Homo sapiens: one gene and its partner. The protein of the gene in region 1 interacts with the protein of each later gene in a pairwise test. Each region holds a gene or a part of one and is shown in the gene's direction. Other genes may lie near its edges.

Region 1 (2,839 bases):
GAGGTAACATGTGATGGGATTCTCTTCTTTGATGAAGCCATTTTGTGGAGGTGCTGAAATCACATACTTCGTTTTATGACTTGATGATCCTATTCTTTTTCTAGGCCAGAGAAAGCTAACATTTGTATTTTCTGTTTCTTGGTTCAGGTGCTGAAACCAAGAACCTACAGTTACTGGTTCCAAAAACTGAGATATGTGAGGAAGCTGAAAAACCCCTCATCATATCAGAAAGAATCCAGAAAGCTGATCCTCAAGGACCTGAGTTAGGAGAAGCTTGTGAAAAGGGAAACATGTTAAAGAGGCAGAGAATAAAGAGAGAAAAGAAAGATTTCAGACAAGTGATAGTGAATGACTGTCACTTACCTGAAAGCTTCAAAGAAGAGGAAAACCAGAAATGTAAGAAATCTGGAGGAAAATATAGCCTTAATTCTGGCGCTGTTAAAAATCCAAAAACCCAGCTTGGACAAAAGCCTTTTACGTGTAGCGTGTGTGGGAAAGGATTTAGTCAGAGTGCAAACCTCGTTGTGCATCAGCGAATCCACACTGGAGAGAAACCCTTTGAATGTCATGAGTGTGGGAAGGCCTTCATTCAGAGTGCAAACCTCGTTGTGCATCAGAGAATCCACACTGGACAGAAACCTTATGTTTGCTCAAAATGTGGGAAAGCCTTCACTCAGAGTTCAAATCTGACTGTACATCAAAAAATCCACTCCTTAGAAAAAACTTTTAAGTGCAATGAATGTGAGAAAGCCTTTAGTTACAGCTCACAACTTGCTCGGCACCAGAAAGTCCACATTACGGAAAAATGCTATGAATGTAATGAATGTGGGAAAACATTTACTAGGAGCTCAAACCTCATTGTCCACCAGAGGATCCACACTGGGGAGAAGCCCTTTGCCTGTAACGACTGTGGCAAAGCCTTTACCCAGAGTGCAAATCTTATTGTACATCAGCGAAGCCATACTGGTGAGAAGCCATATGAGTGTAAAGAGTGTGGGAAAGCCTTTAGTTGTTTTTCACACCTTATTGTGCACCAGAGAATTCACACTGCAGAGAAACCTTACGACTGCAGCGAATGTGGGAAAGCCTTCAGTCAGCTCTCTTGCCTTATTGTCCACCAGAGAATTCACAGTGGAGATCTTCCTTACGTGTGTAATGAATGTGGGAAGGCCTTCACATGTAGCTCATACCTACTTATTCATCAGAGAATTCATAATGGAGAAAAACCTTACACATGTAATGAGTGTGGGAAGGCCTTCAGACAGAGGTCGAGCCTCACCGTGCACCAGAGAACCCACACTGGGGAGAAGCCCTATGAATGTGAGAAGTGTGGTGCAGCTTTCATTTCCAACTCACACCTCATGCGACACCATAGAACCCATCTTGTTGAATAACAAGTAAGGAAGAGGAAGACCTCCAGCATTGGTCATAACCTTCTGCCTCCCTAATGAGACACCTCTTTGCTGTTTTCTTCCTCCTCTATAAAAGTGAGGGCTGTGTCCTTAAAAGTTATAGTTTTCAGGAATGCAGCAGAAGACACAAGAAAAGCATTTCAGAGGCTAATTTAAAACAAAAAGTAAGCACCTAAAGGCAAGGACTTTGTTTTAACTGTACCTTAAGCGGTCATGTTCTCTGAAGTGGAATGTGGCTTTCCTAGGAATGGGTCGTACAAAGCTAAGTGGTAATGATGCTATTTGGGGAAAGGTCTTTTTTGCTTAATTTTGTTTTTTAAAACTCTGATGATTGCTTGAGCAACAGGCAGGTTATCTGCCTGGTTGAATTCTGGTTGAACCGTGTATTCTAATATTTCTGGTTAAGTGGTGACTGGGTAAGGAAACCACTTGGGGTAGCAGTTCAACAATTCACTTACGAATGTTTATAAGCTTTCCATTTCCTAGGTAATTTTTTAAAAGCCAGTCAAAACAAAAACTTTACTGAAAATGGACAGAAATAGGAAATGGACTTTTTCCTTACTGTCTATACCTCCTGAACCTTGGTATTGTAAAGATCTGGGGACCTCTGGGTCTGTTCTGACCATTCCCTAGTCTCCATGGCCAAGCACTCAAGGATTGATGGACACCACACACCAGCTATATTCATTTGCCAAGATCAACAGCTCCTTCTCCAAACAACTCAAGCCCCCAATTCCCATCGCATTCCATTTGGGTGAGATGCAACTAACAGCCCCTTCCTGGATGAAGGAGTCAAAGAATAAAGCTTGCCTAGAGGCATGCCCCAGTTGTCTCTGCTGTCATTCTGCTCAAGTCCAGCCAGGGGTCTCAGTTTGGGTTTCATTCTCACATTCTGGATGGTGTTTAGAAGAAATAGTGGAGCTCTTCTCATTCTGAGAAGACCAAAGAGGGAAAGTGATGGGAGAGGGGAGGTGGAAATAAGATTCCTAAGGTCTTAATTTGATTTTTTGAGAAATTCAGAGGTATTGGAATATGAAAAACTTTTAGAAGGATGAAGAAACTGGCCAAGGTAAGATATCTTTGTTACCATTCAGCCTTTACTCCTGGAAAAATGATTTATAAAACTATGCAATAGGTAGAGTTATGTAATAATATTGCCTTGTATTTATATAGAACTTTTATTCTTTGTTGTGTACCCTTATGTATTGATCATGATACCTGGCACGTATCTCACGCTTTCACATAGATCACCTACCTCAGTCCTTACAACACTGAAACAGGTGGTTGCCCATTTACCTGAGAATGGTCATTTAGTGCAAGGCCAAGTAACAAGTGACAGCTTATATCCAAGTCCAGGTCCTGAATCTAGATTCTCTGTTCTGCCATGCCACTTGCCAAACACCTGTAATCCCCATGCAGACCTGTAG
Region 2 (7,230 bases), on another chromosome or scaffold:
TTAAATGATTTTTCTCTTGAATATGGGTCACATTTGCTTGCTTCTTTGAATGTCTAGTAACTTTTAATTGGATGCTGAACCCTATGAAACTTATATTGTGACTGCTGGATTTTGTTGACTTCTTCAGAGAGTATTGAGTTTCCTTTTGGCATACAGTTAATTACTTGTGAATTAGCTTAATCCTTTTCAAGGATTGTTTTTAAGTTTTGTTCGTATGCACCTAGAATAGCTTTACTCTAGGACTGGTTTAGCCTTTCTACTAAGGCATGACCTTTGTGGGTTCTCTGCTGATTGTCATGGATGTTCAGCGAGGTTTCTTTATTCTGGTTGGGAGGAACTAGAATGTCTTCCAGCCCTTTGTGAGCTCTGGGGATTGTTCTGCTTACAGCTCTTTGGTAATTGTTTTCTCCATGGTAATTTTTCTTTGCCTGACCTTGTGGACTCTCATCCTCAGCATGTTCAGCTTGGTCTTTCTTTAAAGACTCCAGGGGTCCTTTAAGTAGATTTCTGGCACCCTTTCTCTGTGTAACTTCCCATCTGTACTTTTGTTTCAGCCTTCACAAAGTTCAAATTCCGTTTCCTTTGCTCAGTGAGATTTTCATGTTCTGCTTGGGTTACCCCTCTATGCCACAGTCTAGAAAGTGCCTTTAGATAAAAAGCTGTAGAGATTGTAGTTTCATTTTTATTCCAATTTGTATGTATTTCTAGTTTGATGCCATTTATTTTGTCAAGGACAGAAGCAGAAGTCCTCAAGATCCCTTGAGTTTTGCTGGTAGCACTTTTCTGTCTTAGTTCCACCTTCTAGGTTTTGACCACTAGATAGAATTAGAGGTGTGGTTAATTCTGCAGGCTGCACAAGAGAAGGAGAGCCCTGAAGGCTGTGTTAGGTCAGGAGGCGTATTAAGCTTGATAGTTAATGAGTTCAAGGTAAAATGGAGATTGAAACTAAAATTAGCAAGAGAACTGAAGTCGTAGCATGGGGAGCATCAATTTTGCTGAAGTGGTAAGGTGAGTGAGTGCATAATTGTGAAAATGAGTATAGGTTGCTGCTTAAAAGTTTCTGACTAGTGCTATTGAAAGAGTAGAAAAAGACATTTCATTTAATTTCAGCTTGCATTTATCAAATGCTTATTCTTTGCCAGACACTGTTCTAGACATGGGGAATATAAAAATATATTTTTAAACCTTTGGGGAACTCATTTCCTAATTGGATAAATAGATACATAATATTAATAATATGATTTTGTAGTAGATTTTGTAGAAGAAGATGTTGGCTTTATTTTCTGTTGTTACTGAGTTTAGCATACCATCCAACATGATGCCATGGTAGTACAGGGTATTAAGAGGGATTTCATTTGCTAACTTGTTGATTAAATGATGCTTGAATTGAGACTAGATAGATTAGTAAGCATTAGGCAAATAAAGGTGTGCTTGGCATTTCATGCATAAGGAATTGCGAGAGCAGAGACATGGAAGTATGAGATAATATGAGTGTGAGTATGTGTGTATGTATGTAAATATAACTATAAGCAATTTGATAGTACTAAATTATAAAACAAGAGGAGGGGGTGAATGGAGATGAAACTGTAAGAATTAATAGGGCCTTGTAAACCAAGAGCTTTGACTTTATTCAGTAGGGAATGTATCATCTAATTGGGTTCAGCTGCATTTATTAGAAAATCTCAGAATAGCCATTGATTATACAAGATAGAAATTCATTTTTTTCTGATATGAAATAAGTCAGGTAGACAGTCTAGGGCTAGTATGGTCTTCTGGGACCTAGGCTTCTATTGTCTTGCTTTTCCATCATCCTTACAGCATTGCCTCTTAGTCCAGATAACAGGAAAGAAGATGCTCTTTTTTTTCTTAACTTGACTTCCAGAAAGTCCCATAAAATACTTTTGTTTACATCTAATTGGACACTTGATCATAAGGCTTCACTTTCTAGCATGGGAAGTACATTACTTCTCCAAATAAAATGGGATTCTGTTGGTAGGAAAGAAGAGGGATAACTAGCAGTCTTTGTAATGGGAAGCCCTAGAAGAGAAGTACGGTGGTCAGATGTTCCCTTTATATTACTCTAAATGTATTTGGGGTGAGGGGTTGGAGAAAGAAGGGGAGCAGGAAAGATGAGTCCAGGAGATTAATTAGGTCTCCTGGAATCAGTTGTTTAGGTGAGAGATAAGATCTGATCTAGGGCTACTACTTTTTTTTTTTTTTTAAGGCGGAGTTTTGCTCTTGTCCCCCAGGCTGGAGTGCAATGGCACGATCTTGGCTCACCACAACCCCCGCCTCCCGGGTTCAAGATACTCTCCTTCCTCAGCCTCTCAAGTAGGTGGGAGTACAGGCATGCGCCACCACATCTGGCTAATTTTTGTATTTTTAGTAGAGATGGGGTTTCACCATCTTGGCCAGGCTGGTCTCGAACTCCTGACCTCATGATCCACCCGCCTCGGCCTCCCAAAGTGTTGGGATTACAGGCGTGAGCCACCGCGCCCAGCCTGGGGTGCTACTTTAAGGATCAAAGAAGAGAATATTAGTTGGTATTTTGGTTGCAGGTAACAGAAACTAAATATAAATTGGATTTTGCAAAAAGGATTTATTATTAAAGTACAAAATTCTCATAAGACATATAGATGTAGGAATGCAGCTAGGCTTCAAGAATAGCTGGAATTAGAATTGTGAATGGTTTTTGCAATTTTCTTGCCATTTTTCATTTCCCCTACCCTGAGTTCTAGTTTTTAAAAAATTTTTGCTGATTTCTATTTCTCATGACAGAAATGGCCTCTCCCAATGCCTTCCCATTTCTTAGTTTTAGATAAGCCCATTTAGACCTGATTTCAGATTCCTGTGGAATGGCTCAGGTTGATGTGAATTGGGTCAGGTACCTACGTTTGAACTAATCAGTAGTGGCCAGGGATAGAGGTAGGCTCGTATGGTAATCATGTATTCACTCTATGGTATATTTAATAAATATTTTAAAAATGAAAATGGTAGGCTTGAATATGTGAGGTAACATCATCCTGAGTTTCTGACTTGGTTTAAGTGGGTGGTTGGTTGTTCCAGATAACTCAGTTCAATACTATACAAGGAGAAGTAGATTTTGTAGAAGAAGAGGATAGCTTTATCTTCTGTTCTTACTGAGTTTAGCATGCCATCCAACTGCAGTAGACAATTAGTCAGTGAAACTTTGGTTAGACAAATTTGAAAGATATCAGCACAATTTATTGTAGTTCAGGCGATCAGAATGGATTTAATGGCCCAAAGGGAATGTTTAGACATTGAAAAATGTCATGGGCAAAGAATGGAATCCCAAATAACAAGATATTTAAGGGCTAAGCAAAGGAGGAAGAGTTCATGAAGGAAATGGAGAAGAAACAGAGTGGGAGGAGAGCTGAGAGGTGTCATGGAAGCCAGGAAAGTGAGTTATCAACAGAGTTGCATTAAGCAGAGAGGTCTAGAGAGCTGAAGACTGAAACGTTTTGTTGAGTTCGGCACAGTGGAAGCCACTGGTGAGTTTGGAGAAGTTTCAGTAGATTAATGGGGACAGTAGATGTATTGTAGAGTTTTGAGAAAATGTATGAAAGTGAGAGTGTGAAGGCGGTGCATGTAGACTACTCTTTCAAGAAGTTCATCTGAGAATGGAAGCCGGAAGATTAATTCCTGCTAGAGGAGGAATATACGGGGTCAAGGAAGGTCCCCCTTCCCTCCTTAAAAAAAAAAAAAAAAGGGTGGGAAATGCTTGAAATTGTTTCTAGGCCATTAGGGATCTTTGGTTAATGCCGTGAGAGGAGAAGATAATTGATGGAGCAAGGTCCTGGAGGAACAGAAAGAGTTATCAAAATCTTTAGAGCAAGATCTGCCTTAAATAGGAGGAGTTAACTGGAAATAAGGATAGGCACAGCCATAAATGTTTTGGGCGGTGGGTAGGAGGATAAGGTGGCCCTAGTTTTCTTGATGAGGTAAAAGAAGACATCATTTGCTGAGAATATGGGAATTGGTATAAAGCTTCAGGAGGGTGTTGAAGAAGATAATGTTATCTGCAGTTTTAGATCAAGGGAAATCTCAAAATGTGAAACTTAGGGGCAAACAGCAAATTCGTTTACCTGGGTGGTGTTTCCCCTGTTCTAGTGAAGCAGAGATGTGAGTAACTACTTGACGTTGGTAGTCACTGAAGCTCTGTGCTGAAGTGAGGTCTCTACTTGGCAGTTCCCATTTTTGTTTTTTTGCCTTCTCTTGGCTTGATAATAAATGGATGAGAAAATAAAAATAATTTGGTTGTGTTTGGTGGGCTTAACTCAAACTAGTGGGTTTATATGTTTTTTCTTTAAAAAAATTTTTTTTTTTGAGACGGAGTCTCTGTGGCCCAGGTTGGAGTGCAGTGGTGTGATCTTAGCTCACTGCAACCTCTGCCTCCTGGGTACAAGCGATTCTCCTGCCTTAGCCTCCTGAGCAGCTGGGATTACAGGCATGCGCCACCACGCTTGGCTAACTTTTTTGTATTTTTAGTAGAGATGGTGTTTCACCATGTTTGCCAGGCTGGTCTTGTACTCCTGACCTCAAGTAATATGCCTGCCTCAGCCTCCCAAAGTGCTGAGATTACAGGTGTGAGCCACCACACCCAGCTCTTTAAAATTTCATTGCCATTTTGTAAAGGGGAAATACAGTGTAAGAATTTTTTTCTACGATGTTGAATTTCTACCACTTAACAGCACAGAATTTTTATATCAAAGTATGCAAATTTGACAATTTCACTTATATGCTAAATGTTCTTAGAGCTCTGAAGATGAGTGGGTTGAGGCTGTTCCATCCCAGACTCCTGACAAGGAAAAAGCCTGGAAAGTGAAAGATGAAAAGTCAGGAAAAGATGACACCCAAATTATCAAGGTAAGCAAGCCACTTGATTTTCCTTCCTTGCTTTCTTCCTTCCTTCCTTCCTTCCTCCCTCCCTCCCTCCTTCCCTCTCTATCCCTCCCTCCCTCTCTGTCCCTCTCTCCCTCCCTCCCCCTCCCTCCCTCCCTCCCTCCCTCCCTTCCTTCCTTCCTTCCTTCCTTCCTTCCTTCCTTCCTTCCTTCCTTCCTTCCTTCCTTTCTTTCTTTCTCTTTCTCTCTCTCTCTCTCTTTCTCTCTTTCATTCATTTTAGAGACAGGGTCTCACTCTGTTGCCCAGGCTGGGCCGCAGTGGCACAATCAGAGCTCTCTGCACCCTCGACCTCCCAAGCTCGAGTAATCCTCCCACCTCGACCTCCCTGGTAGCTGGGACCACAGTTGTGTGCCCACCACGCCTGGCTAATTTTTTTATTTTGTGTAGAGTTGGGGTCTCCCTATGTTGCCTAGACTGGGTCTCAAACTCCTGAGCTTGAGCAATCCTTCCACCTCAGCCTCCCAAAGTGCTAGAATTAGAGACGTGAGCCACTGCACCTGGCCTATCACTTGGTTTTAAAGAAAAAAGTATCAACTTTTGAGAATAAATGAATATGAAAATGAAAGATGATTAAAATTTCTTCAGGAGAACAATTAGACTTTGAAAACAATATACTTTAGGAATAATTTTGGCAGTACTGCTGTTTGCTGAATGTTTAGAACCCCCTTCCCCTTCTACTGTGAGAAAGTGAGTGTTCCTCTCTATTCTCGTTCCTTAGAGGCTTTCATGCTTTTGATTGTTGATAAGAAGTGGCACTTTCCCCTTATGTCCCTAAAGCCTTATACTGTATCTCTGTCTGACCCTTCTATAGTGAGTGGAGTTCCATCACAGTTTTTTTTCCCTTCACCTCATGCCTTAATTTTCTTAACAATACTTAACAGTTGAATAGTTCAAAAATTTTGGGCTATAGTTCATCTGCCTCAGGAAGAATGTAATTTGTCCACTGTTAGCCACAGGTGAAGGAAGAAAGGTGAACAGGAACTAAGTTTGATTGCTTGTTGTGTGCCAGGCTTTGGGCTGGATGCTTTAGATCTGTTATCTTGTTTACTCTTTAAAACAATCCTGAAAGGTAGGGATTTTATACCATTTTATAGAGGAGAGACTAAAGTATAGAGAGATTTAGAAGCTTGCTTCAAGTTATATAGCCATGTAGGACTTGTTTCAGGTTTGATTGCCTCCAAAGTCCCTGCTCTTATTACCAAGTGTTTATTAAATTCTAATCAGTTCAGATTGAAATGATGAGTGGATGACTGTTGATTTTATGTCTTTTTTTTTAACAGAGGGATGAGTGGATGACTGTTGATTTTATGTCTGTTAAAACTGTGTCATCATCATCACTCAAAGCTGAAAAGGAAACTATGAGGAAAATAGAGCAAGAGAAAAACCAAGCGCTTGAACAGGTAAGAGAATATTTGAAATGCTTTAACTTTCTAATTTACCTTTAATAAACTTACAAGACATTTATATAAATGCAGTTTAACTTGTAAAATACCATTTTATTTTTTATAGTATTTAATACAATTAGTGAGAACAACTATGAAATACATCAGTTTAAGAAAAATAAATTTCCTATAGGAAGTGAGTTTAAAGGTTTACTAGATTTATAAATCTAGGGCATATATAAAGTTGAGTGAATATTGAGTTTAATATCATTAAATTGAAAGTGAACTCACTCAATTTTTGTTTCAGTGTACATACTGAATTAGACACCATGAAAATACTTCCATTTCAAGACATCTAGAAATTCTGGTGGATATAATGTAAAATAAGCATGCTTATTTTATACTTTATTGTTGTCACTTTGCTAGTAAGGAAGCAATAGGAAATCTGTAGAGACCAAAAAATGAGGCAAAAGCATGAATCCAGAGAAGTAAGGAAGTGCTGAAGCTGATGACTTTCCTAGGGGCATCACACAATCCTGGTAATCTGGAATTCCAATTTATACTGTACCAGGAGCATATGTTTCTTTTCCAGTACTCAGTATCTGTAATTGTCAAACTTTATATATTTTTTTATCAGCCTAATAAATGGGTGAGAAATGGTATTTCATTGTTTTTGTTCGCATTTATCTGATTGCTACCAGAGAGGTCTTTTCATGTTTTTTGGTCATTCAGATTTCTTGTACTGGGAGCTGCTCATTTATGTTTTTTGCTTACTTTTCTACCAGGGTTGTTTGTCTTTTTCTAACTGATTTATAGAAGTTATTTATGTTTTCAATCCTTTGTCTTTTATACATTTTCAGATAGTATCTCATAATTTGTCTAGCCTCTTGTCAATTGTCCTCAGTATGCAATTCTAGCCTTTTTT

What was found. Proteins that work in one complex are often made in the same cells at the same time.
Region 2: the proteins of ZNF35 (region 1) and CWF19L2 interact in binary tests that used the Homo sapiens proteins (3 or more experiments, as listed by UniProt).

What each region holds. Positions count from the first base shown.
Region 1 is NC_000003.12:44,658,554-44,661,392, forward strand, and holds the end of ZNF35 (zinc finger protein 35), read left to right. Parts: intron 1-147; coding exon 148-1,394; 3' UTR 1,395-2,238; downstream 2,239-2,839. UniProt on the Homo sapiens protein: May be involved in transcriptional regulation. Involved in cell differentiation and/or proliferation.
Region 2 is NC_000011.10:107,440,596-107,447,825, reverse strand, and holds part of CWF19L2 (CWF19-like protein 2), read left to right. Parts: intron 1-4,776; coding exon 4,777-4,887; intron 4,888-6,203; coding exon 6,204-6,323; intron 6,324-7,230.